3 linked regions of the Homo sapiens genome follow. The protein of the gene in region 1 interacts with the protein of each later gene in a pairwise test. Each region holds a gene or a part of one and is shown in the gene's direction. Other genes may lie near its edges.

What was found.
Region 2: the proteins of ZBTB7A (region 1) and ZBTB45 interact in a two-hybrid assay, tested with the Homo sapiens proteins (one study listed by IntAct).
Region 3: the proteins of ZBTB7A (region 1) and ZBTB5 interact in a two-hybrid assay, tested with the Homo sapiens proteins (one study listed by IntAct).

The regions. Positions count from the first base shown.
Region 1 is NC_000019.10:4,055,901-4,066,138, reverse strand, and holds part of ZBTB7A (zinc finger and BTB domain-containing protein 7A), read left to right. Parts: intron 1-609; exon of another isoform or gene 610-709; intron 710-857; exon of another isoform or gene 858-1,891; intron 1,892-10,238. UniProt on the Homo sapiens protein: Transcription factor that represses the transcription of a wide range of genes involved in cell proliferation and differentiation.
Region 2 is NC_000019.10:58,515,537-58,525,600, reverse strand, and holds the start of ZBTB45 (zinc finger and BTB domain-containing protein 45), read left to right. Parts: upstream 1-5,790; 5' UTR 5,791-5,859; exon of another isoform or gene 5,860-5,984; intron 5,985-5,998; exon of another isoform or gene 5,999-6,582; intron 6,583-7,927; coding exon 7,928-9,206; intron 9,207-10,064. UniProt on the Homo sapiens protein: May be involved in transcriptional regulation. In the central nervous system, may play a role in glial cell differentiation.
Region 3 is NC_000009.12:37,454,279-37,464,516, reverse strand, and holds part of ZBTB5 (zinc finger and BTB domain-containing protein 5), read left to right. Parts: exon of another isoform or gene 1-593; intron 594-10,238. UniProt on the Homo sapiens protein: May be involved in transcriptional regulation.

The DNA.
Region 1 (10,238 bases):
GGTGGGCGGGCAGGGCCGCAGGGACCTCTGGGCTTCGTAGTCCCTCCGCCGTTTGCAGCCGGCAGGTGGCAAGCGGCTTGGACTACAAGTCCCAGGGTGCCCCGCGCCGACAGCCCGCCGCGGCCTGCGGGTAGGGGCGGTGCGGAGGAGGGGCGGTGAGCGGCGGGCCGGAGAGCCAATGGGCGCGGGCCGATCGCGCGGCGCGGCGCGGGGGCGGGGCCAGCCCGCCAGGGGGCGGGGCCTGGAGCCGGGCTCCCCTCGCCGGGGGCCGGTGGCGGTCCCGGCTTCCGGCTGCGCGGCCCGCGGGCCGGCCCCCTCCCCGCCCCGGGGCCCCTCCCCGCCTGGTTGTGTAACCGTCCCCAGCCCCCCTCCCCTCGGCCCCCCGCCCGTGGGGGGGGGGTCACCCTCCCCGCGCTCCCCGGGGAGGGCGGCGGCCCGGGCGGCCGCGCGGTGCAGGCGAGCCCGGGGATGCGCGGCCTAGCGCAGGCCGGGCCCGGGCGTGGGGGAGGCGGGCGGGCGGACCCAGATCCGGGGTAATTTGCATCGCCCTCCCCCCAGCCCGGGTGGGGATTGGCCGCCGGCGGCGGGGGGTGGCGCGGGGCCAGGCTCACTGCCGCCTCCCGGCCCCTCGGAGGGAGCCAGCCCAGCCGCAGCCGCCGCCACCGCCGCCGCCGGGGCCGGGCCCCCTCGCCGCTGCCCCGGGAAGGAGGTAGGAGCCCCCCGCGCGGGCGAGGCGGCGGGGGACCGCGGGCCGGGCGGGGGCCGCGCGCTGCGGCCGGGGCGGGGGAGGGGGCCGCTTCCTGCCCCCGCCCGGGCCTGACTCAGCCCCGGGTGGGGGGCCTGGCCTGGCCCCTCGCCCTGCCCGGACGGCCGTCCGGCTCCGACCCGCGGGAGGGGGCGGAGAGAGCACCCCAGTCCCCGCCGTCCGCGCCCCCAAAGCGCGTGACCCCGTCTCCTCTGGCCCGGACCCCCCCTCCTTTCCCTTGACGCCACCACCACGTGCGAAGCCTGAGCCCGGGCAGGGGAGGGGGGAGCTGGTGGGATCCAGCCCCCTCCCTCCCGCTCCCTACCTCCCGGGCGGGAGACCCAGCCCCCCCGGCCTGGGAGCCTGGCTGGGGGCTGAGCGGAGCGGAGGAGCGGGTGCCCCCCCAGGGACCGGGCCTCTGCGGGTTCTGGGAGGCGCTGCCCGGGCTGGCTGGCGGGGGCGCACGGTGGGCCGCGGCGGGAGGTTGCTGTCCACCCGGGCCCGGACACCCAGTCGGCGCCCACTAAATGTTGGCGGAATGCAGCCAGGAGTTGGCGGCGAGGCGGGGGGAGGCAGCAACTCCTCTCCCCCCAGTCAGGCGGCGGAAGTCACAGAGGTGCTGGTGCCCCTGCCACCCGCGGCACCCACCTGGCTCACCCATGGGTGGCGGGCTCGGTGGGCCCCCCCACCTCCCTGCCAGCTGCCTCCGGAGAGGGCGTGGGGATTCCGTGTCAGTGCCCCCCGCCCCAACCTCAGAACTGGACCAGGGCGTAACCCTGAGCGTGCCGCTCCCACACTGGGGGTGCCTCCCCACCACCGGCCGATCACTTCCTATTGGCAAACTGGTCTGGGAGAGGTCCCGGGGAGGCCAGGCTGGGGCAGGGGCCCAGGCCAGGCCAGGCCTAAGCCCAGCCCTGCTGCTGCCAGGGCCTGAGGGCTTCAGGCCGGGGGCGTTTGTCCGCGAGGGCCACCCGCCATGGGGCCCCGAGAGCACCTATCGGCGGGGCCGGGGCCTCTGTTTACCACCAGCCATCGCTGTGGAGACAGAGCTTGGGGGAGAAGGGGGGGCAGGAGCCGGCCGCTGGAAAAGCGAAGTCTAAGGAAGGAAAGAAGAGCCAACCGGGACACTGAAATTTTAATTCGTGGGTCAGTCCGGGGGGTATTTATTATTCAGTTCCGATTGGCTGCGTGGCGGCCAGTCAGCACCTGGGCCCGGGCGGGCAGCCACGCATCGGCAGAGGCCCGCGGGCGGCCGCAGGCAGTGGATGGGTCCTTTGCTCTGTGCGGGAGACTGAGGCGCGGCCGAGGCAGAGCCCAGCCTGGGGCCTGGTCGGAAAGGTTCCTGGGGCGATCACAAATCCCTGCTGGGTGTTTGTTTGTTTGTTTGTTTTTTCCTTTTCTTTCCTTGAGTCCCTCTGACCTATAGCTGGGTCCACCTGGTGGCAGATCCCCGTTGCCATATGAGGAGGAAACCAAGGCCGGGAGGGGAGGTCAAATGTGAGCCTGGAAACTCCGGAGGTTAGAGCAAGCCTCGGAGCAGGTGCCGGTACTAGGCAGGGGAGACTGAAGCGTAGGGGGAAGCAGAGAGCGGCCCAAGGTCACTCAGGTGGGGTCAGAGCTGCCCCCTGTGCTCCATCCTTCCAGCTCGGGGCCTGTCCAAAGTCCCCTCCCACTGTGTGGTGGCCCAGGGGCGCCTGCCCACCTGTCTTTAAGCAGGGCCGGAGGTTGGCAGTAGAGGCTCAACTGCAGGCACCTGCCTGCAAATGGAGTGTCACCGAGGCTTATTAAACCCTGTGTCCGAAGATGACATTGAGGCTCAGAGAGGGCCAGCATGGCTCCCAAGGTCACACAGCACGAGCCACAGCCCTCTCGCCTCCCTGCCTCACCGGGCAGGCCCTGGCTGGCGCACGTGCATACGAGGCCCCTCTGCAATCCTGCCGAGCCACAAACTCGTCTCACCTTGGTCCTCAGAGGCGGGCAGGGCTCTGGGTTTTATGACCAGAGGAGACCGAGGTCACCTCCCCAGAGCCAGCCCACTGCAGCCCAGATGCTCCAAGGAGGGCTCCTCAAGGGTTGGAATGCTGGCACGCTTGCTCTGCGACCTTGGATGAGCCCCGTGACCCCTGCAGCCGGGGCGCGCTGTGTTCCTGGGGCTGTGGAGGGTCCCCCAGCTGCTGCCTGCAAAGCCACCCGTGGTGTCTTTTCTCCTCCGCGGCGGAAACTCCCAGGTCAGCTCAGGGCATGGCAGAGACCTGAGTGTGGGGTGTGGGTCAGAACTGCGTGAGACACCTGCACCCCCACCTGTCACCTGCCAGACCATAAACTGCCCTGCAGTAGCCCTGGGCAACAAGGACAAGAGGAACGAGCTTGGGTGGGGGTGAGCCTTGGGTGGGGGTGAGCATGGTCCAGTCCTAGCCCAGCCCTTGGGTCCACCCCAGCAGTCACTCCCCCTCTGCCAGCCTCAGTCTTCCCATCCAGACAGTGGGGAGATGGTCATCAGCCCTAGAGTGTTGTCTCGAGGGTTCGCTCAGCGGCTCATTGGGAATGCTTGTTGAGCGACTACTGTGCACTGTGTCAGGCCCCTGCGGAGCTGTCTTGAGAGCTGGAGGGGCAGAGGCCCCTCCCTGAGCCACCCATGTCAGCTGGACTCCAGCCCTGCCCCAGGCTCCTGTGTGAGAGCTCCCTTGCAAGGCAGCTCTGAGGGTATGAGGATAAGCCGTCCTTCCTCTCAGCCCCCAGGGTAGGGGGATTTCATCTCCTGCTGGTATCCGGGGGCCAGGAAAGGGGATGGAAGGAGCCGTGGGAGGACTAGTTAGGCAGGCCAGAGCCAGACAGACGGCCCGTGCTCAAATTCCAGTTCTGCTGCGCGACCCTGGCCAAGCTGCTCCCCCTCTCTGATCCCGTTCCCCGTTTGCAAAATGGGGCACAGACACAGATCCTGCCTTCCAGCGCTGTGGGTGCCGTCACGTACCGTGGGTCTCTGGGGCGATTATCAAGGCCCAGCCTCCCCCAGCTGCTCCGAGGAGCGGCTCTGGCCCTTGGGCCCCGAGCGCCGAGTCCAGAGCCCCAAAGCGCAGAAGGCGCCCCTCAGAGAATCCGGCGCTCGGGAGGAGCGTGGCCAAAGGACCAGCCCCTCCATCTGTCCCCCCAGCAGGCTGTGGACGGCCACTCGGTGGAAGTGTCGCCACCCACGCCTTTCTGGTTTGACTGGAAAACAAGGCCCATCCCACCTATCAGGATGCCTGAGAGAAGGATCTGGCCGGATTCTGCAGGCCGCCAGGCTCCCAGGCTGAGCCTTCCACCTGCTCAGGCGAGAGTGGGGGTGGGGCAGGTATCTCCAGGTGACAAGCAGGCCTCCCTCAGGGGAGGGAGAGAGAGGTCACCTCGGCCTCTCACAGGCATCTCAGCTAAGCAGGTGCAGCCTGGGCTGATGGCAGGGTGGACAAGGATGGGCTTCCGAGAGTCTGGCCTTGCTTGCCCCCAGTGACGGGAAGCTCAGCCCCTCCACTGTCGTCATGAAGCTTCCTCTTGGAACCTGGGCTCGGGCTGTAGTCTGGGCTTCCTGGCCCATGACATCTCAGAGTGTGGGAACAGGGTGGGCCTCAGTCCCGCCCATGAGTTGGGCGTCAGATGGGATCCCCCTGGCCTCCTCATCGCTGCCCCCATCCCCGCTGTCACACTTCCCACTGGGTCCCCACGGCCTTCCTGCCTCTGGCCCTTTAAGGCCCAGGCAGGAAGCCCCTCCCCATTTAGGGCAATAAATGGACACGTAAAATGGCCGAGGGCCTGTTTGCTCCATGTCTGGCCCAGAGGGAGGCCTGCGGGCGAGGGCAGGCGGGCAGGGGGCGGGCTGGCAGCTGGCAGCCACCCCAGGCCGTTGGTGCCCCCCGATCGGGACACTGCATTCCTGTCCCATTAAACCCAGGCCGAGGACTGGGCCAGGCGGGGCTTGGCACCAGGTCAGGGCGGGGTTACCCGTCGGGACCAACCTTGCAACACAGGCCGCTGGGCGGGGAGGGGGCGGGGGCTGCCGGGTGCGGGCCTGGCAGCCGCACCTGCACACCAGGCTTACAGTGTGACCTTGGGCCGGCCGCCCACCCTCTCTGGGCCTGATCTCCCCTTCCAGCTTCCTCCTCAGGCCCCACCACTCACTCCCTTGGTAGGTGAGGAGGGGACTGAATTCCCGGAATAGCATTCAGGAGCAAAGTTCCCATCCGTGAGGGGTGGTGAACAGCCTGGCAATGTGTTTTGGGGACTGGCTCTGGCGCACATTAGGTCCCTGGGCTAAGTTTGCTGAATGGATGTGAGCGGGACCCTGACCACAGTGGGGGGCCCCTTTCCACTGTTACGACCCCCATCCCCCAGGAGACAGAGGCTCAGAGAGGTCTCGCATCTTGCCCAAGGTCACACAGCTTGGAGGTGGGGGAGCCGAGGCTTGAACCCGAGCTGCTCTGCACAGCACATGAGGGGTGAGAGGTCCCTTTGGCCTCCTTCCCTGCTCTCCCTGGGCAGAGGGTTGGGTGGGGGCCCTGATCCCCTCATTAGACGGCCCCCTGCTCCAGGAAGTGACCTTCGGGAAGGTGGCGGGTGGCAGTTACCTGCCCAGCCCTCACCTTGTCGTGTGACCTTGGGGAGGCCCCTGGCTCCCACACCCTGCACTAGCGATGCAGCCTCCTCTCTGCCGGTCCCCCTTCCCCGGTCGCCCACCTCCAGGCCTCAGTTCCTGATGCTCCCCGTGCTGGGGTGCCCTTCTTGGGATGCCGGGGTCCTTCCTAGGCGACATCTGCTGCTCCCTGAGCCACGTCAGGGTGCTTCCGAGCTCACGACACATCCCCCGCAGCTGGGAAGTGGCAGCTGCCCAGATCAGAGGGCTGCTGTGTGACCTCGACTGGGCCGCCTCACCTCTCTGAGCCTCTCAGGGACCTGGGGAAGACGAAGTGAAGGTGCCCAGTTAGTTTGGGAGCACAGAGGGGGCCGAAATGCGGCCCGGGTGCCGTGGCTCTCGACAAACACTACAGCAAGTGACCCTTAGGTTAGATGGGAGGTGGGACCGGCAGGCTGCACAGCCCCCTGCTTCTGGGTATGCCTGGCAGCCAGCTGGGTGGGCCGGGGCGTGGGCTGTCTCTGGTTTATCCGGCGGTTTGCTGCGCCCCTACTATGCGCCACCCTGGGAGGGTTGGGCTTAGGGGCCTGGGAGTGGCCCGGGGGGAGGAGGGCGCCCCACCTCCAGCCCAGGAGGGGCCTGCCAGGGCCTGCCCCTCGGCCGCCGAGTCAGCACCAAGCAGCCCCGGAAATCCCACGGAGGCCAGCGCGGGGGAGGAGCTGTGATGAAAGATGGGGCCCCGGGTGGGTGTGGGCCGAGCCCAGGGGACCCTGGCCGGCAGGGGTGGGGACCTGGCTGGCGTGGGGCCGGGGCTTCCTGGAGGAGGGGAACGAAACCGCCACCTCCGGAGGCGTGTACCGTGTGTCGGGCGCACAGTGGGGCTTCAGCACTCGGGGACTTTTTATTGCCAAGACTTTGTGGCCCCCGCCGGGGGTGCTCTGGCTGGGCCCGGCCTCCCCTCTCCCACCTCGGAGGCAGGGTCTTCGGCCCTTTCCTTAGGGGAGGCCTCCAGGAGGCCTAGGTGGGGGCATTGGCGCAGGGCGTGGCCGGCAGGTGGCTTGTGTTCCTGGAGTGAGGGCGTGGGTCAGTTGTCTCAGAGCGAGTTTAGTTTCCAGGGCGAGGGCAGGGCCTTGCCCTGGGTGGGTGGGGGGACCGGCCCCTCCATCATTTCCTGGCCCCCAGCCCCTGGGAGTCAGCCCTGCCGGGCATCCTTAGGCCAGGACTGCAGCCCTCTCTGGGCCCCGGCATTCTCATCTGTAAAACGCGGCCACAGTCCTCTCACGGGGGCTTTCCTTGGCTGACATCACCCCGGGCCTCGCTGCTTTGAGGGAGGGCCTCAGTGATATTTAGGGGGGAACAGGGGCCCAAGAGAGGGTCCCAGGCTGGAGAGGGCAGAGACTGGGACCCCCGGACCCAACCTGGAACTGGGATCTTCACACTGGCGGGGACCTGCAGGAGGTCGCTGAGCCACCTGGATTATTTTGGGCCCATCCTCCAGGCCCCAGGAAAGACACCTCCCAGCCACTCCAGAGCGGGGACCCTGGTCACCCGAGGGGAGGAACGGCCCAGCAGGCCAGGGATAGCCATCTTGGGGCGTTGGTGGCCTGGGTCAGAGGTCTCCCCCCATGCTGGGGTGGGTAGGAGGGCCCGGGCCCGTCTGATCCGGAGCTCCATCTGCTCACACGCTCCCCGCGGCCCAGGGCCAGACGGCAGATGGTGGCAGGGGGTGGACACCACCAAAGGGGACTCCTCGGAGGCTTCCCAGGGCCGAGCCTTGGGTGGGGTCGCTCCCCTCCTACCCTCCCTGCTCCCAGCAGCCACATCTGAGCCCACCGCCCCACCACAGGCCTTAGAGTAGACGGGGGTGCTGAGCAGCTGGGCCCTGGGCCGAGGCTGGAAGGAGGGAAGGAAGGCGGGTGGAGGGGCCTGGGGAGCGTGGTGGCACTGAGCAAGCTCACAAAGGCCTCTGTGTCGCCTGGCAGCTCAGGCCCCGCGCTGAGGGCCCTGGGCTTTGGGTCCGGCTGGACCGACACCATGCCTCCCTTGTGGGGCCTGGCTCAAGCCCGTCGGCGTCAGAGCCTGCCTGAGCTGCTGGGCTGGGGGACAGGAGGGTCTGGTGGCCCGGAGGAGGCCATGAAAGGCCCAGCTCAGGCCCTCTCCCCAGGGGCCTTGCCCAGGGGCTCTGGCCCGAGAGCCACCGGCCGGCCTGGAGGAATGTGAGCTGTGCTGGGTGACTCGGGGCCGCCAGGGGCTCCCAGGAGAGGGCGGAGGGGTGGGGACAGGGGCCAGAGGGTTGCACAAGCTCCGAGTGGGTGGATGAGTCACAGCCGAGGGGAAGGCGGAAAAAAGGGAGGGGGAGAAAGGGGTGGGACAGACACAGTCCCCCCAGGGCCCGGCGCTGCCCGAAACCTCTGCCCATTTGACAGATAGGGAGACTGAGGCCCAGAGAGGGCCAAGGCCTTGGCTGGGGCTGAACAGCTCAGCTGGGGTGGCTGAGAGTTGGGGAGGGGCTGCCAGGCAGTCCTGTGGGCAGGCAGGAGGTGGACAGGGGTTCCCCCGGCTCCCTGCTCCTCCTGGGCTGTAGCCCGGTCTCTGTTACTCACAGCCAGGGCTGAGCCCTATGCTGGGGGCTCTGAGGGGCAGGAAGGGGTTTAGCCTGCGGAGTCACTGGCCCTGTCCGGACGGGGCACACCCACGGTGGCCTTGACCTCAGCTGGGTTTCGGCACTGGGTCCCCGTGCCTGGGCTGCCACACCCCTTCCTGCTGACTCAGAGCCCCCCTGAAAAGAACCAGGCCTGACCAGGAGGCAGGAGTCAGGGTTGGGGAGGCCAAGGGGTCGGCTCTTAGGTCCACTCTGGGTTTGAGTTTGGACGCAACTGTGTCCTCATGGTGGGGCCTCGGGCAAGTGGCCTCAGCTCACGACGGAGTGGGTGCTGCCGGTGGGGTTCGGGTGGAACTGGCGGGAAGTAGGTGTTATGTGTTGTTGTTATTGTTTTTTTTTTTTTTTTTGGAGACGAGTCTCGCTCTGTCACCAGACTGGAGTGCTGTGGCGTGATCTAGGTGGCTCACTGCAGCCTCCACCTCCTGGTTCAAGTGATTCTCCTGCCTCAGCCTCCCGAGTAGCTGGGACTATAGGCCCGCGCCACCAGGCCCAGCTAATTTTTTGTTAGAAATGGGGTTTCACCATGTTGCCCAGGATGGTCTCAATCTCTTGACCTCATGATCCACCCACCTTGGCCTCTCAAAGTGCTGGGATTACCGGCGTGAGCCACCGCGTCTGGCCATAGTAGGTGTTTTGTAAAGGTCACTGCGTGGCCTCCCCTCTGTATCGGCCGAAGCCCGTGCTCAGATCAACAGGAAAATGGCTCAGATCAGGGCACTTCTCTCGAGCTACTGCGTCCTCCTGTAGCGCCTCAGAGTGCCCTTTCCTTATTTATTTATTTTTCCAACACGGAGTTTCGCTCTTGTTGCCCAGGCTGGAGTACAATGGCGCAATCTCACCGCAACCCCCGCCTCCCGGGTTCAAGCGATTCTCCTGCCTCAGCCTCCCGAGTAGCTGGGATTACAGGCACGCGCCACCACACCTGGCTAATTTTGTATTTTTAGTAGAGACGAGATTTCACCATGTTGGTCAGGCTGGTCTTGAACTCCAGACCTTAGGTGATCCGCCTGCCTTGGCTTCCCAAAGTGCTGGGATTATAGATGTGAGCCACAGTGCCCAGCCCTTTTTTTTTTTCTTTTTCTTTTTCTTTTTTTTTTTTTTTCAGACCGAGTCTCGCTGTGTTGCCCAGGCTGGAGTACGGTGGCTCCATCCAGGTTCACCACAACCTTCGCCTCCCGGGTTCAAGCGATTCTTCTGCCTCAGCGTCCTGAGTAGCTGGGATTACAGGCACGCGCCACCACGCCTGGCTGATTTTTTTTTTTAAGACGGAGTCTCGCTCTGTGGCCCAGGCAGGAGTGCAGTGGTGCAATCTCGGCTCACTGCAACCTCCACCCCCCAGGTTCAAGCGATTCTCCCGCCTCAGCCTCCCGAGTAGCTGGGATTACAGGCACGTGCCATCACGCCCATCTATTTTTGTATTTTTAGTAGAGACAGAGTTTCACTGTGTCAGCCAGGATGGTCTCGATCTCCTGACCTGGTGATCTGCCCGCCTCGGCCTCCCAAAGTGCTGGGATTACAGGTGTGAGCCACCACACCCAGCCTAATTTTTGTATTTTTAGTAGAGACAGGGTTTCACCATGTTGGCCAGGCTGGTCGCTGGTCTTGAACTCCTGACCTCAAGTGATCTGCCCACCTCAGCCTCCCCAAAATGCTAGAATTACAGGCGTGAGCACCGAGCCGGGCCTCAAAGTGCCCTTTCAACAGGCATTCCCGGGGGCCCTCCTCGGAGGGGTGGTGCCAGTGTGCTTGTGAAATTTAAGCGTCCAGTGTGGGTTTTGCCAGCCTCATCTCACGCTGATGAGACAGAACAGGGCATCTGACTGCTCTTGGGCACAGCTAGGGAAACTGAGGCTGATGGGGGGCAGGAAACCTGACTGTCCTCATGCACAGCTGGGGAAATTGAGGCTGGGGGCAGGACAGCTGGCCGCCCTTGTGTACAGATGGGAAACAGGTTGGGAGTGGGACACCTGATTGCCTTCCTGTACAGCTGGGGAAACTGAGGCTGGGGACATGACGTCTGATTGCTTTTGTGTACAGCTGGGGAAACAGGCTGGGGGAGGCAGGACATCTGACCATTCTCATGCACAGCTGGGGAAACTGAGGCTAGAGGATAGGACATTTGACTGCACTTGGGAACAGCTGGGGAAACTGAGGCTGGGGAGCCGGGACATCTGGCTATCCTCATGCACAGATGGAAAACAGTCTTGGCCGGGTGCCGTGGTTCATGC
Region 2 (10,064 bases), about 54 Mb from region 1:
TCCACCAGGGCCTGGGGCTGGGCCTCCCTCCAGCCTCTCTCTAAGCTGCAGCCTCAGAGGACTTTCTGGAGTATACAGGGGATCCTGCCATTGCCCCTTCACACCTCACACGGCTCCCATGTCTTCTCTGTCCCATCAGAAGGGCTCAAGTCTTCACTGCTGCTATTTGCCTTGCCAGGGACCACCCCTCAGCCTCCGCTGCTATCTGCCTTAAACCAGGAAGCATTTCTGCAGGTATATGCTTAGTGCCTGCTCCTGTGTGTACTCATTTAGTACTTGAAATGCCCCCACAACCATTGTGCATGGATCATGGGACCTGTATTCCACACCTGGCACAACCCAAACCCACTAGGATGGGGCCGGGTTTGTGGACACAAGGACTTGAGTATGACTGCCAAAGAGGGGGAGCCTGGATGAAAGGCTGGCCGGGAAGTGATGGAGGGTGGAGGGAGGTTGGGATCCTGACTGAGATGGAATCAGGCACAGCCGAGAGGTTCTGGAAGACTCCTTGGTGGGAGCTGTCTGTTCTCTGACCCATGCTGTCAGAGGGGCCCTGCCTTAGCCAGCTGAGGAGGCCCAGTCACCCTGGAGCTCAATTTCTTCTGCTCCTTTCACATCTGTGGTCACTGTGCTCTCACAGACTCTTCCCTCAATGGCCACCATTTCCCATCTCAGGCCTTGGGCTTAGCCTGGAATTGTTTTTTTGTTTTTTTTTTTTGAGACGGAGTCTCACTCTGTCGCCCAGGCTGGAGTGCAGTGGCGCAATCTCGGCTCACTGCAAGCTCCACCTCCCAGGTTCACGCCATTCTCCTGCCTCAGCCTCCTGAGTAGCTGGGACTACAGGCGCCTGCCACCACGCCCAGCTAATTTTTTGTATTTTTAGTAGAGATGGGGTTTCACCGTGTTAGCCAGGATGGTCTCGATCTCCTGACCTCGTGATCCGCCCGCCTCGGCCTCCCAAAGTGCTGGGATTACAGGTGTGAGCCACTGCACCCGGCCTAGCCTGGAGTTTTTAATATTTGCAGGCCACATCGCCCTCCTCCCTAGCTTGTCAAACCTGTGTTCTCAGGTACACATTTATTCCTTGAAATGCCCCCACAACCAGGGTTAAGGTCTTTGGGTTCATACACACACACACACACACACACACACACACACACACACATATATGAACACACACACACACACACACACATATATATACACATTCTTTTTATTATTATTATTATTATTTTGAGACGGAGTCTTGCTCTTGTCGCCCAGGCTGAAGTGCAGTGGCGCGATCTCGGCTCACTGCAACAACCGCCTCCCGGGTTCAAGGTATTCTCCTGCCTCAGCCTCCCGAGTAGCTGGGATTATAGGGGCCCACCACCACCACGCCTGGCTAATTTTTGTACTTTTAGTGGAGACGGGGTTTTGCCATGTTGGCTAGGCTGGAACTCCTGATCTCAGGTGATCTGCCCACCTCAGCCTCCCAAAGTCCTGAGATGACAGGCATAAGCCACCGTCCCAAGCCCTTTTTTTTTTTTTTTTTTTTGAGACAGAGTCTCCCAGGCTGGAGTGCAGTGGCGTGATCTTGGCTCACTGCAACCTCCACCTCCTGGGTTCAAGGGATTCTTCTGCTTCAGCCTCCCAAGTAGCTGGGACTACAGGCCCCTGCTACCACGCCCAGCTAATTTTTCTATATATATATATTTTTAAAGATGGAGTCCATATCCTGGCTAACACGGTGAAACCCCGTCTCTACTGAAAATACAAAAAAATTAGCGGGGCCTGGTGGCGGGCGCCTGTAGTCCCAGCTACTCGGGAGGCTGAGGCAGGAGAATGACGTGAACCCAGGAGGCGGAGCTTGCAGTGAGCCAGGATTGCGCCACTGCACTCCAGCCTGGGCGACAGAGTGAGACTCCATCTCAAAACAAACAAACAAACAAAAAAGATGGAGTCTTGCTCTTGTCTCCCAGGCTGGAGTGCAATGACAGCTGATCTCTGGCTCACTGCAACCTCTGCCTCCCAGGTTCAAGCTATTCTCCTGCCTCAGCCTCCAGAGAAGTTGGGATTACAGGTGCCCGCCACCATGCCCAGCTAGAGATGGGGTTTTCACCATATTGGCCAGGCTGGTCTCGAACTCCTGACCTCAGGTGATCCACCTGTCTCAGCCTCTCAAAGTGCTGGGATTACAGGCATGAGCCACCGTGCTCGGCCAATTTTTGTATTTTTAGTAGAGACCGGGTTTCACCATGTTGGCCAGGGTGGTCTCGAACTCCTGACCTCAGGTGATCCACCTGCCTAAGCCTCCCAAGGTGCTGAAATTATGAGATTACAGACGCCACCACAGACGCCACCACGCCCAGCCTTGTGAAAAGATCTTTAGAGAGAAAAGGAAAATAACCCTTGAGGCTGCAGCTCTCACCTCCCTTGGCTGCTTGAGAGAGGTCAGGGTTTGGTTTTTCTCCTTCCTGTGTTCATCCTAGCCCTTGGGCAGGGTCTTCCACCCCTATCTTGCCCTAATCCTCCAGGCCCCATCCCTTGGAGCTGAGACTTTCTCTAAAGCCACCCGTGTCCTCTCCTTCCTACCCTGAATCTGTCCCTTTCTACCCTTCACTGCTGTCAGGGCAGCTATTGTTTCCTGCTAGGACTCCTGCGTTTGCCACCCCACTAGGTGCACTGTCTTCCCTACAGCCCCTTAAACATGCTAATGGGGCTAATGGGACATGGCTTCCCCCCCTCAACACACTGCAATCCTGCCACTCAGCCCAAGGTTCACTCATTTGTCTTGCCCAAGGGAGGGCCGTCCTCCCTCCTCAGAGGCCTCATGCATGCCTTTCCCACCTACCCTTATGCTCTTCCCAAAACTCAGCCCAGTGAAAGCAGACCCAGTGGGTCCAGCAGGCCATGGTTTGAGTCTGAACAAAGACGATGATGGCAGGTTATTAGACTTGTGTGTTTTTTGTTGTTTTTTTGTTCTGAGACGGATTTTCACTCTTGTTGCCCAGGCTGGAGTGCAATGGTACGATCTCAGCTCACTATAACCTCTGCCTCCCGGGTTCAAGCGATTCTCCTGCCTCCGCCTCCCAAGTAGCTGGGATTATGGGCACCCGCCACCACGCCCAGCTAATGTTTTGTATTTTTAGTAGGGACAGGCCGGGCACAGTGGCTCATGCCTGTAATCCCAGCACTTTAGGAGGCCGAGGCAGGCAGATCACCTGAGGTCAGGAGTTTGAGACCAGCCTGGTGAACATGGTGAAACACCGTCTCTACTAAAAATACAAAAATTAGTGGGGCATGGTGGTAGGTGCCTGTAATCTCAGCTACTCAGGAGGCTGAGGCAGGAGAATCGCTTGAACCTGTGAGGCGGAGGTTGCAGTGAGCCAAGATCGCGCCATTGCGCTCCAGCCTGGGGGACAAGAGCGAGACTTTGTCTCAGAAAAAAAAAAAAAAAAAGTAGAGACGGGGTTTCACCATGTTGTCCAGGCTGGTCTCAAACTCCTGACATCAGGTGATCCACCCGCCTCGGCCTCCCAAAGTGCTGGGATTACAGGTGTGAGCCACTGTGCCCAGCCTAGACTTGTGTTTTAATGAGGTTTCCCACCTGGTACATATTTTCCTCCCCCTGACCTCCAAATACCACATCTACAACACAATCACCCAGTAGCTGTCCTGGGTGAAGGACAGGCATCCTGACCCTGTCTGTCTTCTGGAGGCTTTGTTCTAGTCATGCGTTTGGACAGTTGGTTCCCTCTTTCACTGCCGAGTCCCTCTGTCCTCTGGGATAGGGGAAGTGAGAACTGCTCCCTGAGGAATGAGATCACGAAGGGGCCTGGTAAAAGCTGGGAAGGCACAGAAATAAAGCTTTCAGTGAGGGAAATGTGAGGAATGCGTTCATCAGATGGGAAACAAATAGTGGCATTTATTGGACTCTCACTGTGTGGAGGCCCTGGATCTCACCAGATGTATTTGTTTTCTATCGTTACTATAACAAATTACCAAAACTCCATAGGTTAAAACAATATCCATTTATTAGCTCACCATTCCATAGGTCAGAAGCCCAAGTAGGTCTTCTGTGGGTCTCATAAAGGCTAAAATCAAGGTGTGGTATGGACTAAGCTGCTATCTGGAGGCTCTGGGGAAGAATTTGCTTCCAAGCTCATTCAGGTTGTGGGCGGAATCTAGCTCCACGCACTTCTAGGGCTAAGGTCTGTTTTCTTTTCTTTCTTTCTTTTTTTTTTTTTTTTTTGAGACTGAGTGTCGCTCTTTCGCCCAGGCCCGACTGCAGTGGCGCTATCTTGGCTCACTGCAAGCTCCGCCTCCCGGGTTCACGCCATTCTCCTGCCTCAGCCTCCTGAGTAGCTGGGACTACAGGCGCCTGCCACCGCGCTCGGCTAATTTTTTTTTGTATTTTTAGTAGAGACGGGGTTTCACCGTGTTAGCCAGGATGGTCTCGATCTCCTGACCTCATGATCCGCCCGCCTCGGCCTCCCACAGTGCTGGGATTACAGGCGTGAGCCACCGCGCCCGGCCTTTTTTTTTTTTTTTTTTTTTTTTTTTTTTTGAGACGGAGTCTCGTTCTGTCGCCCAGGCTGGAGTGCAGTGGCGCGATCTCAGCTCACTTCAAGCTCCGCCTCCCGGGTTCATGCCAGTCTCCTGCCTCAGTCTCCCGAGTAGCTGGGACTACAGGCGCCTGCCACCACGCCCAGCTAATTTTCTGTATTTTTAGTAGAGATGGGGTTTCACTGTGTTAGTCAGGATGGTCTCGATCTCCTGACGTGATCCACCCGCCTTGGCCTCCCAAAGTGCTGGGATTACAGGCATGAGCCACTGCGCCGGGCCATGAGGTCTGTTTTCTTGCTGGCTGTTGTTGCAGCTCTTCTCAGATTCTCAGCATGACACCTGTCCTGTTGCATTTCCTCTCATGGACCTCTCTACCTTCAAAGCCTCTGGAACCCTTCTCCTACTTCAAGTTTCTCCACCTTCCTCTTCTGCCTTTAAGGACCCTTATGATACCTTGGACCTACCAAAATAATCCAGAATCATATCCTATTTTAAGATCAGCTAATGAGTAACCTTAATTATTTCCGCAAAAACCCTTTCACCATGTAGTGTAACTATTCATAGGTGAGATAATCATATTTACAGGTTCTGGGGATTTGGGCACGGAAATCTCGGAGGGGGCCATTTTCGGAATTCTGTCCCCCATACCAGATTGACTTGCAATGTCCCAGAATCTCACAGGGTCTAGCTCAGGGGAGGCCCAGAGCAGGGTGAGGCAGTTGTCTATTCCTGTCTGCGTTGTAGTAGAAGGTGCCAAGGCCGAGATGGGGTCCTTTCCCCAGTCCCACCCACAGCGGGCGGGCCTGGAGCGTCTGCAGTAGTGGTAGCTTGCTTGCACCTCCTGGCGGCCAGGGACCGAGACCTACTTCAGCTCTCACCCGTGTCACAGGAATAAGGCCACTTCCCCGGTTCGCAGTGGGGTTTAAACTGGCCAGAACACGTTGGGCACTTGGGCCGGGAACTGCCTTCCCATTCTGCATCACAGGGAGCTTGCGGATTGATCGCGCAGGCCCGCCACACCCCTGATCTCCTGGGCGACGCCGGAAGAGTGCTCTGGTCCAGACATTCCTCGCGACGCGGCAGCCCTAGCCTCTTCGACTTTGGTTCCGACTAAGAGGAGAGCCGGAGTGCAGACTGGCGGGAGCTGATCGCCATAAAAATACCGGAAACGTGCTTCGGCCTAGGGTTTCCCCTGCGCCGCCGCGACCGCAGGCCTCCGTTCCGCCGGGGTAACGGCCCGGAAGTGCGGCCTTGTAGTCGGTCAGGAGGAAGCGGCCACGGCAGAGCCTGGTGCCTGAAGAGGAGTCGGAGGTGGGGTCGAATGGGCATCCCCCTGCCGCAGGGCGGGCGAGGAGGCTGGGGCGTGCCAGGGGAGGGGCACCTGCGCTCCGCTAGAAGCGCACGCTGAGAACGCGAGGGGGCGCTGCAGGACCGGGGTACGGCGGGGGCCAGAGTGCGGGGTGGCAGCGGCGGGTCAGAGGGGTGCTTTGGGCGTAGGGTGGGGCGCGGGCAATGGAGCAGAGTATGGGAGAACGCGCTCGGAGTAAAGCACACGGCGCGGCGAAGGCGTGGCGGGAGTGTGCGGCGCCGGACCCGGGAAGCTGGCCTGGGCGCCGGGTCTCGAGTGCAGGCCTTTGTTCTGAAGTGTCCAGGCCGGCCTTGCGGCGTCGGGACTGAGGAATGGAGCCCGTCGCGGGGCGGGGCGGGAAAGGAAGGTTCAAGTCTCTCGGGTTGATGCGCAAGTTTCCGTCCCCATCGGCCGGACAGATTAGAATCCTTTCAGGTGCTAGGTGAATACAGATGGGGCGGTGCTGCTTGCTGAGTTAGCCTTTGCGCGGGCACAGGCCTGGCTTTTTTGAGGCATTGCACAGAAGGCTCAGAACAGGGCCAGGGAGCGGGGTGGTGTATCCGGATCCGTAGTCTGGAAAAGCTCCCTCTGGCTGCCGTGTGGGGAACAGAAGGGGAGGCGAGGGGCGCAGAGACACCAGCCAGGTTTCTTCATCCGTCCAGGACAGCGGGAACGGGGCAGTGGAGGTGCTCGAAGTGGTCTGAGGGTCAAATGTGGGGCATGCAAAAAAGGGAGGCGTCTGGCTGAGCAAAGGGACGGCGGATTGGGCATAAGGAGTCGGAGGGGTTGAATCTTGAGACCCCAGTAGAGCCCGAGGGTGTAGGGGCAGCATCAAGCCGAGCCCACCCTGGGGCTTTGTGACTCCAAGGGAGAGACAGGCTGGTGGAGCCTATACGGATGTCAGAGTCCAGAGCTCCTACCCTCCTCCCTTAGACTGGAGGTGTGTGCAGTCTGGGTGCGGGATGAGCCGAGTATCTCATCCCTTGTTTGATAGAAGGGGAAACAGGCCGAAGGATCACGGTTTACCTGCTTGATGGATGGAGTAGCAGAACTCCTCAGATTCCAGAGTCCTCTGAGGACTACCCCCTCCCCTTTCTGGTGCCTGATGTTGGGCCGTGTCCCCGATTACTCCATGGGCAGCTATCCAGTCACACACCCCTGCTCAATCCACACTTCCCCTCTCTGTGCCACACCCACACCCTGGGCCCCACAGGCCCCATCGAGATGGCAAGAAGCTGGGGCTGCAGGAGCCACCTCCCTGCTCGCTATGCTAGGGGCTGCCAGGGAGCATGTACTGGTTTCCCTGGGGCATCTCCCAAGGTACTGCCCAACCTTTTACCCTCAGCCCTTAGTGACTAGGCACACCCAGAACCACCCTGCCCAGGAAGCAGGTCATGCCACCCCACTCCTGCGAGAGCCTCTGTATATACTAGTTAAGGTGACCTGGTTCTGAGGCAGCAATCCTGCCTATGCACAGGGTCTCATACTGGGGGGATGTGGCTAAAGGAAACCAAAAGGAGCTGTCAGCAGGGGTGGAGGAGGAGTGGAAGCTAGCTGGGTAGAGAGCAAGGTCTACTCGGGGTGAGGCAGGTTAGCCAGTTGGGATGGGGGTCCCTGGCCTCTTCTACACACCGGGCTGCCCTCTTGGAGGGGCACATGGGGAGGCTTAGGGTTATTGGAGTTGGGGTGGGGTGGGTGGGTGAGTCAACATAGAGTAGGCCAAGGCCTGAACCTTTTCGGGAGCAGTGATTGAGGCCAACACCCTCTCCTAGGGGTGTGCTAGGGTTTGCAGCGTTAATGGGGGGCTGTAGACGGCCTGGCCAGGTCTGAGGTAGGGGGAGGAGGGAGTGCTGGAGTGTCCTGTGTTGGGAATGGGGACTGTGAAGGGCAGCTGGGGAGGGATGGGTTAGCGCGCCTTGGAGTGTGGTGCACTCGAGCCCTGTCCTGCAACAAGGGGTGAGGGGACAGGGACGTTGGGACAGATGGGGGTCCTCAGTTGACCTCTCCCTGCCCTCCTCTTGTTCTGTGCAGATGGCGGCTGCAGAGGCTGTGCATCACATACACCTGCAGAACTTCTCACGCTCTCTGCTTGAGACCCTCAATGGGCAGAGGCTTGGGGGACACTTCTGTGACGTGACTGTGCGCATTCGTGAAGCTTCGCTGCGTGCCCACCGCTGCGTGCTGGCGGCCGGCTCACCCTTCTTCCAAGACAAGCTGCTGCTCGGCCACTCTGAGATCCGTGTGCCTCCGGTGGTGCCCGCGCAGACAGTGCGACAGCTGGTAGAGTTCCTGTACAGCGGTTCGCTCGTTGTGGCGCAGGGTGAAGCCCTGCAGGTGCTCACGGCCGCGTCAGTGCTTCGCATACAGACAGTTATCGACGAATGCACGCAGATTATCGCCCGCGCTCGAGCCCCGGGCACCTCTGCGCCCACGCCCCTGCCCACCCCTGTGCCCCCGCCACTCGCACCTGCGCAGCTGCGTCACCGCCTGCGCCACCTGCTGGCTGCACGTCCCCCGGGGCACCCCGGTGCTGCACACAGCCGTAAGCAGCGCCAGCCCGCGCGTTTGCAGCTGCCAGCGCCCCCAACACCTGCCAAGGCTGAGGGGCCTGATGCTGACCCCTCACTGTCCGCGGCCCCTGATGACCGAGGTGACGAGGATGACGAGGAAAGTGACGATGAGACCGATGGCGAGGATGGCGAAGGTGGCGGCCCAGGCGAGGGCCAGGCACCTCCTTCCTTCCCAGACTGTGCTGCTGGCTTCCTCACTGCTGCTGCTGACAGCGCGTGCGAGGAGCCCCCTGCACCCACTGGCCTCGCTGACTACAGTGGTGCCGGGAGAGATTTTCTTCGGGGAGCTGGGTCAGCTGAGGACGTATTTCCAGACAGCTATGTATCCACTTGGCACGACGAGGATGGCGCTGTCCCCGAAGGCTGTCCCACTGAGACCCCTGTCCAGCCCGACTGCATACTGTCTGGATCCCGCCCGCCTGGTGTGAAGACCCCAGGGCCGCCCGTTGCACTCTTCCCCTTTCACTTGGGTGCCCCTGGGCCACCCGCACCACCCCCTTCAGCACCATCGGGGCCAGCCCCTGCGCCCCCACCCGCCTTCTACCCCACACTCCAGCCCGAGGCAGCCCCCAGTACTCAGCTGGGGGAGGTCCCGGCTCCCTCTGCTGCTCCCACCACGGCCCCCTCAGGCACCCCTGCTCGCACCCCAGGTGCTGAGCCACCTACGTATGAGTGCAGCCACTGTCGCAAGACGTTCAGCTCCCGGAAAAACTACACCAAGCACATGTTCATCCACTCGGGTGAGCCAGGGCGGGGGAGGAGAGGGAGCAATCTCTCATCGGAGAGTTAAACCTGAGGGGGAATTGAGCACTAGTTACAGGGCACTGGCACTGTTCTGTTACTTTTGGTTAGCAGGGGGCCTAGAAATTGAGCCTTCCCCCAAGTGCAAGGTATGTGGGGGAGGGGAAAGCCCCACTCTGTGGAGCAGCAGGCACTGGCTTCTGTGGAGGGGGATCCTGAGGCTGGGTAGGGAAGCAGGAGCCTGTCCTGGCCTTTGGAAGGGTGGTGGTGGAAACTTGAGCAGCCTGGGATGCACATGATGGGTATGGAGCCTTGGCAGGAGGTCCTGGCAGGTTGGGAAACTATGCTCCAGGGAGCCTCCTGTGTCTCTCTGGTTTCCAGCTGTCCCGTTATAGGCTGGCAGCAAGGGAGGATGGGTTTACAGGCCCAGGGGTAGAAAGCCCTCAGAGGTGGTGGGATGAAGGCCCCAGGAACTCCTGAGACTGGGGCATGAGTAGGAAAACATAGGTAGTGTGGGGACTCCACAGCTGCAGAGGACCCCGAAAAGCTGTGGGGAGGTTCCCTCGGACCTTGGCCGTGTCAGGGAGGCGGCTCTGCAGTGCTGCAGGAGAGGTAAAGAGTGGGAGGGTGGTACTGGGGAATGTGGTGAGGATGCTCCCTGGGGGCTCTGAGATGGAGGACAAAGGAATGGAAAGCAGAAGCCTGCTGAGCATTGTCAGAAAAAGCAAAAATTTGGCTGGAAGGCCACAGTGATAGTGAGGGGGTTTCTGCAGGGGCTGGAACTTGGGATTTGACTGTGAGTGGTGGGGAAGCCATGGTGTTCTAAGCTGGGGAGTGACTGAGATGTCAGTTTAAAA
Region 3 (10,238 bases), on another chromosome or scaffold:
ATTTTTTTTTAAGTCAGTCAGCATTCTGGCATAGTGAAGGATATTGTGGAAACTAATTTTCTGAACAGAAGGCAAATCCTAAATAATTTGGAGGAAAAATTTTAGGTGAAAGCACAGTAAAGTTGATTACTAAGTAGTATCTTCTGACTCTAGTTAACTTGAATTAATAGAAGGAACTCTTCACCTTCAAAAATTGAAGCAAAAATATTCCAAAACATGTTCTCATATTTTTCACTTGTATTAAGTAGAGGACATTACGGGCTTTTCTTTAGAGGTTGAAGAGAATGCTGTGCCTTAGTCATTAAGTCATTGGTAATTTGTTGTCCTAGTATGGGCTGTTGTGCTTAGATGTAAAAGGCTGGGCAGAACTTGCTTTTCATTTGCCTAAACTCTTGTGATTTCTGTGGGGACGGTGGTTGGCAGTAAGCTAATAGTTCAGAGGGAAAAGTCCAGATGGGAAGAAGACAAGGAATTTTAGAGAAAAGCCCCTAAGCCAAAGGAAACCGTTCACTCTTCCTTTTAACCCTTATGGAAATCTCATCAAATTTGGGAAGATTGACCTGGCCACCACAGCCAGCTTGGTGACCTTACAGGTAAGACTACTTGGGTGGGGACCTGTTTTGGGCCCTTGGGTTTTGCTGAATAAACAGACTCTTTTTTTGAAGAGTCCTGAAGTCAACTCGTTTACTAGAGATTTGCCCCTTTTCCCTAAAAGTTGTGTCAAAACATAACTTTTAGTTAGCTGAGGATGCTGGCAAGCTGGATTTTGGTTAATTGATATGTCTCTAGCAGAATTCTGAAAATGGTAAGATTTGGAGGAAAGGCATCTTACAGACTTAGGAGCGAACGCTCTCAAAAGAGACTCACAAGACTGTCCCCAAAGTGGAAGTAATAAAAAATCACTGGGATATCAAATAGTACTTAAAGAACTCAGCATGAATTATATCGAATTGGAGACTTTAAAATATCTTGTGTTCAGTGAAATTGACAAAACCTGGTGTAGTGCTGACAGAGAATCTTGAATCTGGCTCACATTCGTTTTGGAAATGGAAAAAAGAACCCAAGGTATTGATTCTATGTTAGCTTTCAACTTTTTTTTTAATGTAAATTAATTTTAAATACTTTCCCCCTCTGTCAGTTTTAAGCGTGTGATTTTTCTTTTACTGTACGTAATATTTCTCAAATATGGATGTTGTCTAGTAGAGCCAGTTTTGTTAGTGTAGCAGGTGGGATGGAATGTAGCACTACACTATGCCTTTTGTCTAAGTATGAAGTGAACTTCTCATCTCCTAAAAGACCAGCTGTTTCTGAGTGAACTATTGCTCTTTGCATATGTTCTCATCATTTTCACCACTGAATAGTAGCTTTTAATTTCAAGATCCAGTTTTAGAGGTGCCTTTCATTTTATTAGTTATACATGTATTTCCTAAAAGCTTTGATTTATCTTGACATCCCAAACAGATTAGGTTACTCTGACAATTCGAAGGGTGAGGAGGGCAGAGAAGAATTTTATTGAGTGATGGAACAGCTCTCAGAGAAGAGGGCATGCAGGGGGTGGTCTCTTTCCCAGTGTGGCTGGTTCCGGGGCTTCTTAGGGACTCAGAATGGGGAGTGTGTGCTGATTGGTTTCTGATGCAAAAAGTTTAAAGGGAAGGCCGGGTGTGGTGGCTCACGCCTGTAATTACTGCAATTGGGGAGGCTGAGGCGGGCAGATTGCCTGAGCTCAGGAGTTCAAGACCAATCTGGCCAACATGGTGAAACCCTGTCTCTACTAAAAATACAAAAATTAACCCGGCATGGTGACGTGCGCCTGTAATCCCAGCTACTCAGGAGGCCGAGGCGGAAGAATCGCTTGAGCCTGGGAGGCAGAAGTTGCATTGAGCTGAGAGCATGCCACTGCACACTTGGAGTCTTGGAGACAGAGTGAGACCCTGTCTCAAAAAAAAAAAAAAAACGGTTAAAGCAAAGACACCACTCAAAGGTGGGCACGACAGTGTAGAAAACCAATTAGGAAAGGGGTAGATATATGTAAAATAGGTGAAGGGTGGGGATCAGTCAGAGGAAAGCATGCCAAATGGGAACACAGGTTCTCAATCTGGTCCGTGGATTTGACTTGTAGCTTGGCTTTCAAGCTTTTAAACTGTCTTCGGCTTGGAGGTGGGGTTTCACTGGGGATGTGCCCCTGTCTGCCTAGGCATTTGTCTGTCTCCTGCCTCTATCATAGTAGTCATTGGCAGACAGTTTTCCTTCCTTGAAGACAGGATACCATAAGTAAGCATTATGCCATAGCTTAATTGGCAGTTTTTTTCCTAGTGTTACATGAAATAATGCATTTTATAATCACAGACATCTTAGATTTAATGAAATTTGGTAAAATTAATAGAATTTTAGCTCAGGTGGCACACACCTGTAGTCCCAACTACTTGGGAGTCTGAGGCAGGAGGATCACTTGAGTTCAAACCAGCCCAGGCAACATAGTAAAATCCTGGCTGCCTATCCCCCATAAAGAGACTTTTGTACCCAACTAATTCCTTGTAATTGTAACCAATAAATTTTCCTAATTCGTTTTCCTGCTCTGGAAAATGTTTGTTACTGAAAAGAAGCCTATCGAGCGTGATATTTTTCCTTATGTAAATGGAAATTAACAAATAAAATGTTCATTTTACAAATTTTAAAGGATGATTAAGTGATAGGTCTACTTTTTGGAAATTATACTTGGTAATCTGTTACTTTGTATGGTAACAGGTTTACAAATGCCTTTATTCCTAATTTACTTTTTTTTTTGAGACAGGGTCTCACTCTGTCACCCAGGCTTGAGTGCAATGGCATAATCTGATCTCGGGTCACTGCAACCTCCGCCTCCTGGGTTCAAATGATTCTTGTGTCTCAGCCTCCTGAGTAGCTGGGACTACAGCTCGTGCCACCATGCCCGACTAATTTTTGTACTTTTTGGTAGAGACAGGGTTTCGCCATGTTGGCCAGGCTGGTCTTGAACTCCTGACCTCAGGTGATCCGACTGCCTTGGCCTCCCAAAGTGCGTGATTACAGGCATGAGAGCCACTGCACCTGGCTGATTGCCATTTTCTTAAGTTTAAAATGTTTAGGGTGAGTTGCTCCCCTTTTTTTCTATGCATGATATTGTTGACATGGTATAATTAATTTTTCAGTACATCTTAGTCAATTATAATTTAAAATCCACTCAACCATCTTCCTCTAAAAATACAAGGCTTTCACCTTTATAGTCCTTATGGTTTAGTCTTTTTTGCGAAGAGGATTTGAGGAAGGAAGACCAGGAAAACAAAATCCAGTGTTTGGGCATTTGGTTGTGGGAGGAGCCCAGAAATGCTACAAAAATCTAAACACATTTAAGTTACTTAGATTGTACTTATTTTGAATAGATGATCAAAAGCAACTCTGCAGGTCAAGTGAAGGTCACTTGCTGAGCATTATTGATTTGATAAATGATTGAGAAGTGAAGGCATATACTGCTTTGAAAGTAAACTAGGTGTAAGAAATGGATTAAGTCCATGTTCATCTTCTCTGTTGGAAAGGCACCATAATAATAGTGTCTCCAAAGCTTTGTCATAGTTTTCATCTTGATAAAAGTTTAGTTTTTTTTTTTCTTTCTACTTTGTTCTGTTTTGCTTTTGAGATAGGGTCTTGCTCTGTCACCTGGGCTGGAGTGTAGTGGGATGGTCATAACTCACTGCAGCCCCAAACTCCTGGGCTCAAGCAACCCTCCCCCACCCAGCCTCCCAAGTAGCTGGGACTACAGGCATGCACCACCACGCCCAGCTAATTTTTGTATTTTTTGTGGAGGTGGGGGTCTCCCTATGTTTTCCAGGCTGGTCTTAGACTCCTGGACTCAAGCATTTCTCCCACCTTGGCCTCCCAACATGTTGAGATTATAGGCGTGAGCCACCATGCCCAGCACCCAGCTAATTAAAAAAAAATTTTTTTGTAGAGAAAAGGTTTTGCTATGTTAACCAAGCAGGTCTCAAATGAGCCTCCCGCTTCAGCCTCCCAAAGTACTGGGATTACAGGTGTGAGCCCCGCATCTGGCCTAATTTTTTTGGGGGGGGAGTGTTCACTCTTATTGCCCAGGCTGGATCCAGCGCAATGGCGCGATCTTGGCTCACTGCAACCTCCACCTCCCGGGTTCAAGCGATTCTCCTGCCTCAGCCCCCGAGTAGCTGGGATTACAGGCATGCACCACCATGCCCGGCTAATTTTTTATTTTTGGCAGAGACAGGGTTTCTCCATGTTGGTCAGGCTAGTTTCGAACTTCCGACCTCAGTTGATCCACCCGCCTCGGCCTCCCAAAGTGCTGGGATTACAGGCGTGAGCCACTGTGCCTAGCTGGACTAATTTTTTTCATTAAGAAAGAAGTTTCTTGGCCAGGCCCAGCATTTTGGGAGGCTGAGGTAGGCAGATCACAAGGTCAGTAGCTTGAGACTAGCCTGGCTAATATGATGAAACCCAGTCTTTACTAAAAATTAAAAAAAATGGCCTGGCGCAGTGGCTCACGCCTGTAATCCCAGCACTTTGGGAGGCCGAGACGGACAGATCATGAGGTCAGGAGATCGAGACCATCCTGACTAACAAGGTGAAACCCCGTCTCTACTAAAAATACAAAAAATTAGCCAGGTGTGGTGGCGGGCGCCCGTAGTCCCAGCTACTTGGGAGGCTAAGGCAGGAGAATGGCATGAACCCGGGAGGCAGAGCTTGCAGTGAGCCGAGATCGCACCACTGCACTCCAGCCTGGGCAACAGAGCAAGACTCATTTCAAAAAAAAAAAAAAAAATTAGCTGGGCATGGTGGTGCACGCCTGTAATCCCAGCTATTCGGGAGGCTGAGGCAGGAGGATTGCTTGAACTGGAGGTTGCAGTGAGCTGAGATTGTGCCACTGCACTCCAGCCTGGGTAACAGAGTGAGACTCTGCCTGAAAAAAAAAAAAAAGTTTCTTGATCTGTCAGGGGTAAAAGACATGTTTAAAAGTTGTTTATGCTACACATCAGTTGGGATTGGAAAGAAAAGAAAACTTTTTTTTTTTTTTGAGATAGAGTTTTGCTCTTGTTGCCCAGACTGGAGTACAGTGGTGCGATCTTGGCTCACTGCAACCTCTGCCTCCCAGGTTCAAGCGATTCTTCTGCCTCAGCCTCCCGAGTAGCTGGGATTACAGGCATGTGTCACCACGCCCCACCAATTTTTTGTATTTTTAGTAGAGACGGCTTTTCTCCATGTTGGTCAGGCTGGTCTCAAACTCCTGACCTCAGGTGATCCACCTGCCTTGGCCTCCCAAAGTGCTGGGAGTACAGGCTGAGAAGCAGGGGCTGGCATGCCCATGCCCTGTTTTACATTTTTTGTAAATCTCTTTAATATGTAGTTTAATAGAAGACAGCTGGATTCCATTAAATGCTTCTGCATTCATTTTGCCGTGATACACTATTTTGATTAAAATATACCAAAAAACTCCAGCATCACACAAATATGTAGTTGGAAAGGGAGGATTATTTCAGTAGATTTTTCAGATAATTTTGGATATTCTTACTCTGATACTGTACCAAAACTCCACAAGTGGTATTTTCTTAAGTGATTAGTGCAATGTGGAATCTGAAATTATGTCAATGAACTTTTCATATTCTGTTGCATTAAAATACATTAGCTTATGTTTTGTACCTTGAATGAATTTTTACCCATACCTTGTTTTATAGCATTATTGTTACATGGCTACATGGTCATTTGGAAAATACTGATTTCAGAGTTATGCAGATCTTCCAAACGTTGACTCATTTATTATACAATGTAAAAAAATCACATTTCATTAATATCACCAATGATCTGTCAGAAGAATTTGAGCATGTGGGAAGCTGTCAAGCTCACAGTGACAGATACAAGTTTTCCAAAATACTAATTTTCACCTGAATTCTCAAACTTTTTTATTGGCAATAAGTAGTACTAAGTTATCTTATTTAAAATAACAGGCTTGTTTCATTCATTTTTTCATTCATTTTCAAGAAAATGGTAAATACTTCTAAATAACCATAGTTTGTCATTCGTTCTTTCAAGTAAAAATAGTGTCCCATGAGAAAAGCAATTAGTTGAGCCACCTCAAAAACTGCACAAGTGCTTTTTCTTGAGGCAACTTGTATTTCAGAATGCAGGAGGAAAACTTCAGGTGTACTTCCCATTTTATCACACATATTGAAAACAGGTACTCAAGAGTTGAGACTTAATAACAGATGTAGGGAAGGGGAGGCTGGGTCTCCATTGGAGTGAGCATTTGGTTAGTAGTAGCTGTGTTCAGCACAGATGTTTGGCATTCTGACCTGATTGTTCCTGCTGCCTAGCTTAATTTCTTCCCAGTTCAATCTTACGTATCCAGCCTTCCCATCAATTCCATGATCAAACTAATAGCCTTTCAGTAAATTACTTTTATGTTTAGGATCAATTTTTGTTGCTGCAACCAATGACTCTGGCTGATGTGCTGCTTAAACTTAAGAAAAAAACCCTAAAATACTTTTTAAGAAAGTAATCTCAAAAGTGATGATAGCCTTTAGTTCAAAAGTATGTGCCTCATGGTTAACCTTTCTGATGACTTGTAATTATTAACATCAGTTATGAGCAGTCACTATCCAATACCTACCTTTCTAGCCATACTATTTTCCAGCCAAATCGAATACATTGCTTTACCCACCTCAACCCCTTCTCCACCTTTACCTCTGTCTAGGGGTTTGTCCAAATCCAACCAAGACCTAGCTCTGTTGTCAACGCTACCATGAAGCTAGAAATAACCTTTGCCTTCTCCAAACCATTGAGAGGTTCTTTCACCTCTTATGTGGCACTTAGTGCCTTCCACTTTGTAATATCGTTATTCATGTATATCTTATTTCCACTAAATACCTGTGACAGTTAGTACTGTCCCATACAAATCTATGCTCCACAGCGCTTAACCTTGAACAAGTAAGCACTTTAAAACATTAGATGATGCTGGCATGGTGGCTCACACTTGTAATCTCAGCACTTTGGGAGGCCAAGGTAGGAGGAATACCTGAGCCCAGGAGTTCGAGACCAGCCAGAGCAACATAGTGAGACCCGTCTCTACAAAGAATAAAAAATTAGCTGGGCATGGTGACGTGCCTGTAGTACCAGTATTTGGGAGGCTGTGGTGGGAGAGTCACTTGAGCTAGGGAAGTGGAGGCTACAGTGAGCTGTGATTGCACCACCACACTCCAGCCTGGGTGGCAAAGCAAGACTCTGTCTCAAAAACAAAACAAAACAAAAAACATATTACATGAATGAACTTGTATACAAAAAATACACAAGTACCTTTATGGGCTGTTGAGGTCCCTTGAGCTGTATACTACCTAGCTCCAAGCTGCTGGGCCTCTTTTCCCCCTTAGTGGGTCAGCTGTCTCTTTCTGCAGCTATCAGCTTAACTTCATTTAAGCAGCCACTCCTTGCTCTCATTCTGGAGTTGCTGCTTCAGTTAGTTAGGGAACTAGAAAAACTTGAATTTTGTTTCGAACAAAAGACTGTGTGAGGGCTTAAGGGACTTTCCTATGAGAAAATCTTTCATCCATAGTCTTTGATCTTTATTTTGGATATTCTGAGACTTTTTCTTCTGGTTTTTGGCTGATTTTAGAGATAGTTGTGATTCTCAGAAAAGTGATTTTTGGGTAATACATTATACTTCATCCATATATAGCAAAAGTTTATTCAGCAAATAATTTACTGAGTATTTTATGTCAGGCACTTTGAGAGAGAGAAAATACAGTTCCTGCCCTCAATAAGCTGTTTTAGTAGAAAAAGCATTTGAGCTTGTACTAGGAACCTAAGTAGGGCACTAATACCTTTTCTTATTCAAACTGAGTTACAGAGCTCTAGGTCAATTCATCCCTAGGGATTTTGGCCTGGAAAACAAGGTGGCAATGTGGAGAGAATTGGAGAGTTAGGTGAGATGGTCAGGGCTTCCAGCTCGCCTTCCTCAGTCATGCTCATCTTTAGTCACTAGTGGAATTTTCCTGTTTTATAGAACTAATCTGTTCAGTTTCTGAGCCAACCCTGACAGAGCAGAACCAGAGATATTATGACATTAGTCATGCTGACAGGTCTGGTTTCTTGGGGTTAACCCAGGCATCATTGTGCCCACCTAGTTCCAGCCTTCCCCTACTCCCACTTTGCTGGTCAAATTAGAACAATGGATGGATGTTCCAGTACTCCGCTCTGTCTGACTTGGAGCCCTGTCAAAATTCCTAGCCTGGGCCAGGTGGGTGGGTGGCTCACGGCTGTAATCCCAGCACTTTGGGAGGCTGAGGCAGGTGGATTGATTGAGCCCAGGAGTTTGAAACCAGCCTGGGCAACATGGCAAAACCCCCTATCTACAAAAAATACAAAAATTAGCCAGGCATGGTGACACGCACCTGTAGTCCCAGCTACCCAGGAGGCTGAGGTGGGAGGATCACCTTGAGCCTGGGAGGTCAAGGCTGCAGTGAACCGTGATCAGGCCACTGTACTCCAGCCTGAGTGAGAGAGTGAGATCCTGCCTCAAAAAAAGAAAAAAAAAAAAATCCTAGCCTGCACTTCCGGAGCCTGTGGTAGGAGGATTGCTTGAGCGCTGGAGTTCAAAAGCAGCCTGGGCATATTGAGACCCCACCTGTATTTAAAAAAAAAAAATCCTAGCCTACTTGAGTGGGTCCTTGCTTTGTTCTGCTCTCTGACTTTTGTTTTCATCTATATCGTCTCTACAAGTGGAGGAAATGTTCTGTCTAGTTATTTTTCTGCTGATGAAATGGGAGAGTTCTCTGAACCCCCCTCGCAGGACGTGTGACAATGATGTGGCTCGTCTGTTTGGCTGCCACCACTGCTAAAACCCTTTACAGGAGGAGGAGCACAGAGACAGGCAGGGGCAGGAGCTGGGGCAAGCTCTTTTAGGCTCTGGCCCCACGGTGGCATCTAGGGGTGGGTGCCTGCAGCTCCCGAAGCCCCATTGGGCATGCTACAGTGCTCTTTTAGCTTGCCATATGCAGATGGGTTAAGTGTTAACCAGCTCAGTACCTTCTTGGTATTTGGGTTCTTGTCCAGCATCCAGGAAGAATTGGGTCACACATGGACTTGAAGGATGGTGTATTCGGGATTTTATTGGATGATGGAGGTGGCTCTCAGTGGGATGGATGGGGAGCTGGAAAGGGGATGGAGTGGGAAGATGATCTTCCCCTGGAGTTCGGCTGTCCTGTGGCCGATCTCTCTGACCATCCCCAGCTGAATGGCTCTTGACATTCAGATGCTCCTTCTCTTCTCTCCTTGGCCACGCTGCTCTTATGCTCCTCTGCACATTCTGTTTGTCTGCTCATCTGCCTGTGGAACCTGGGGTTTGGGGTTTATATGTGTACAGGATAGCATGGTGTGGCAGGCCAAAAGGCAACATTTGGGTGCAAAAACAGGGATGCCTGTTCCCATTTAGGGCCACAGGTTTCCAGGCTTGAGGGTGGGGCCTTAGCTGGGGTACTGCCTTCTTCTACCCAGCATTTCCCTGTCTCCTGTCCATATCACTAGGGTTTTTGTTTTTGCTGAGCCCACACAGAAGTAGGATCTGCTAGGGTTTTATCTAGATTGGGCTACTGAATGTTAAGGATTCCTTAGAATGTTAATTTGCTTTCTGCAGGTGACAACTGTGTGGATCCTGCCTGGCAGGCAAGCAGCAAATTACTTGATATGGTAGTAGATGATGTTTGAGTATGGGTGCGGTTTTTGTTATGAATGAAGTATATTATTGAGAAGCATGTGGGTATATCAGTGTATAAATTAAATAGTTTAAAATGTGCTGGCTTGTTCTCCGAAGACAGAAAGGAACTTTATTAGCCTAAGTAAAGCATTATTAGAAAAGTAAATCTATTGAGAAAAGTCATCTTTTGATTATTCATGTTAATGTAATGGACAGTAATGAGAGTGTATTTTCTTAATTATATTTAGTTTTGAAATTCCTAAATATTTGTTCCTGCAGATAACAAATACTGAACTTTACACTTGCTTTGGGTTAGACACAGTTATACATCAGTAGATTGCTTGCCACACTCTCCTCCAGCTATGTTGACTCATATTGTCACATTTTGGAGCCTTTTAAAGAGACCTGAAGCCTTTTTCCTTGGTTAGAAGGCTTCAGACAGGCAGCTTTGGGTAAAACTCTTAATTTACTCAGCCTGAGCTCTGTTAAGGCTTTTAGACTGGCCTTCTGACTT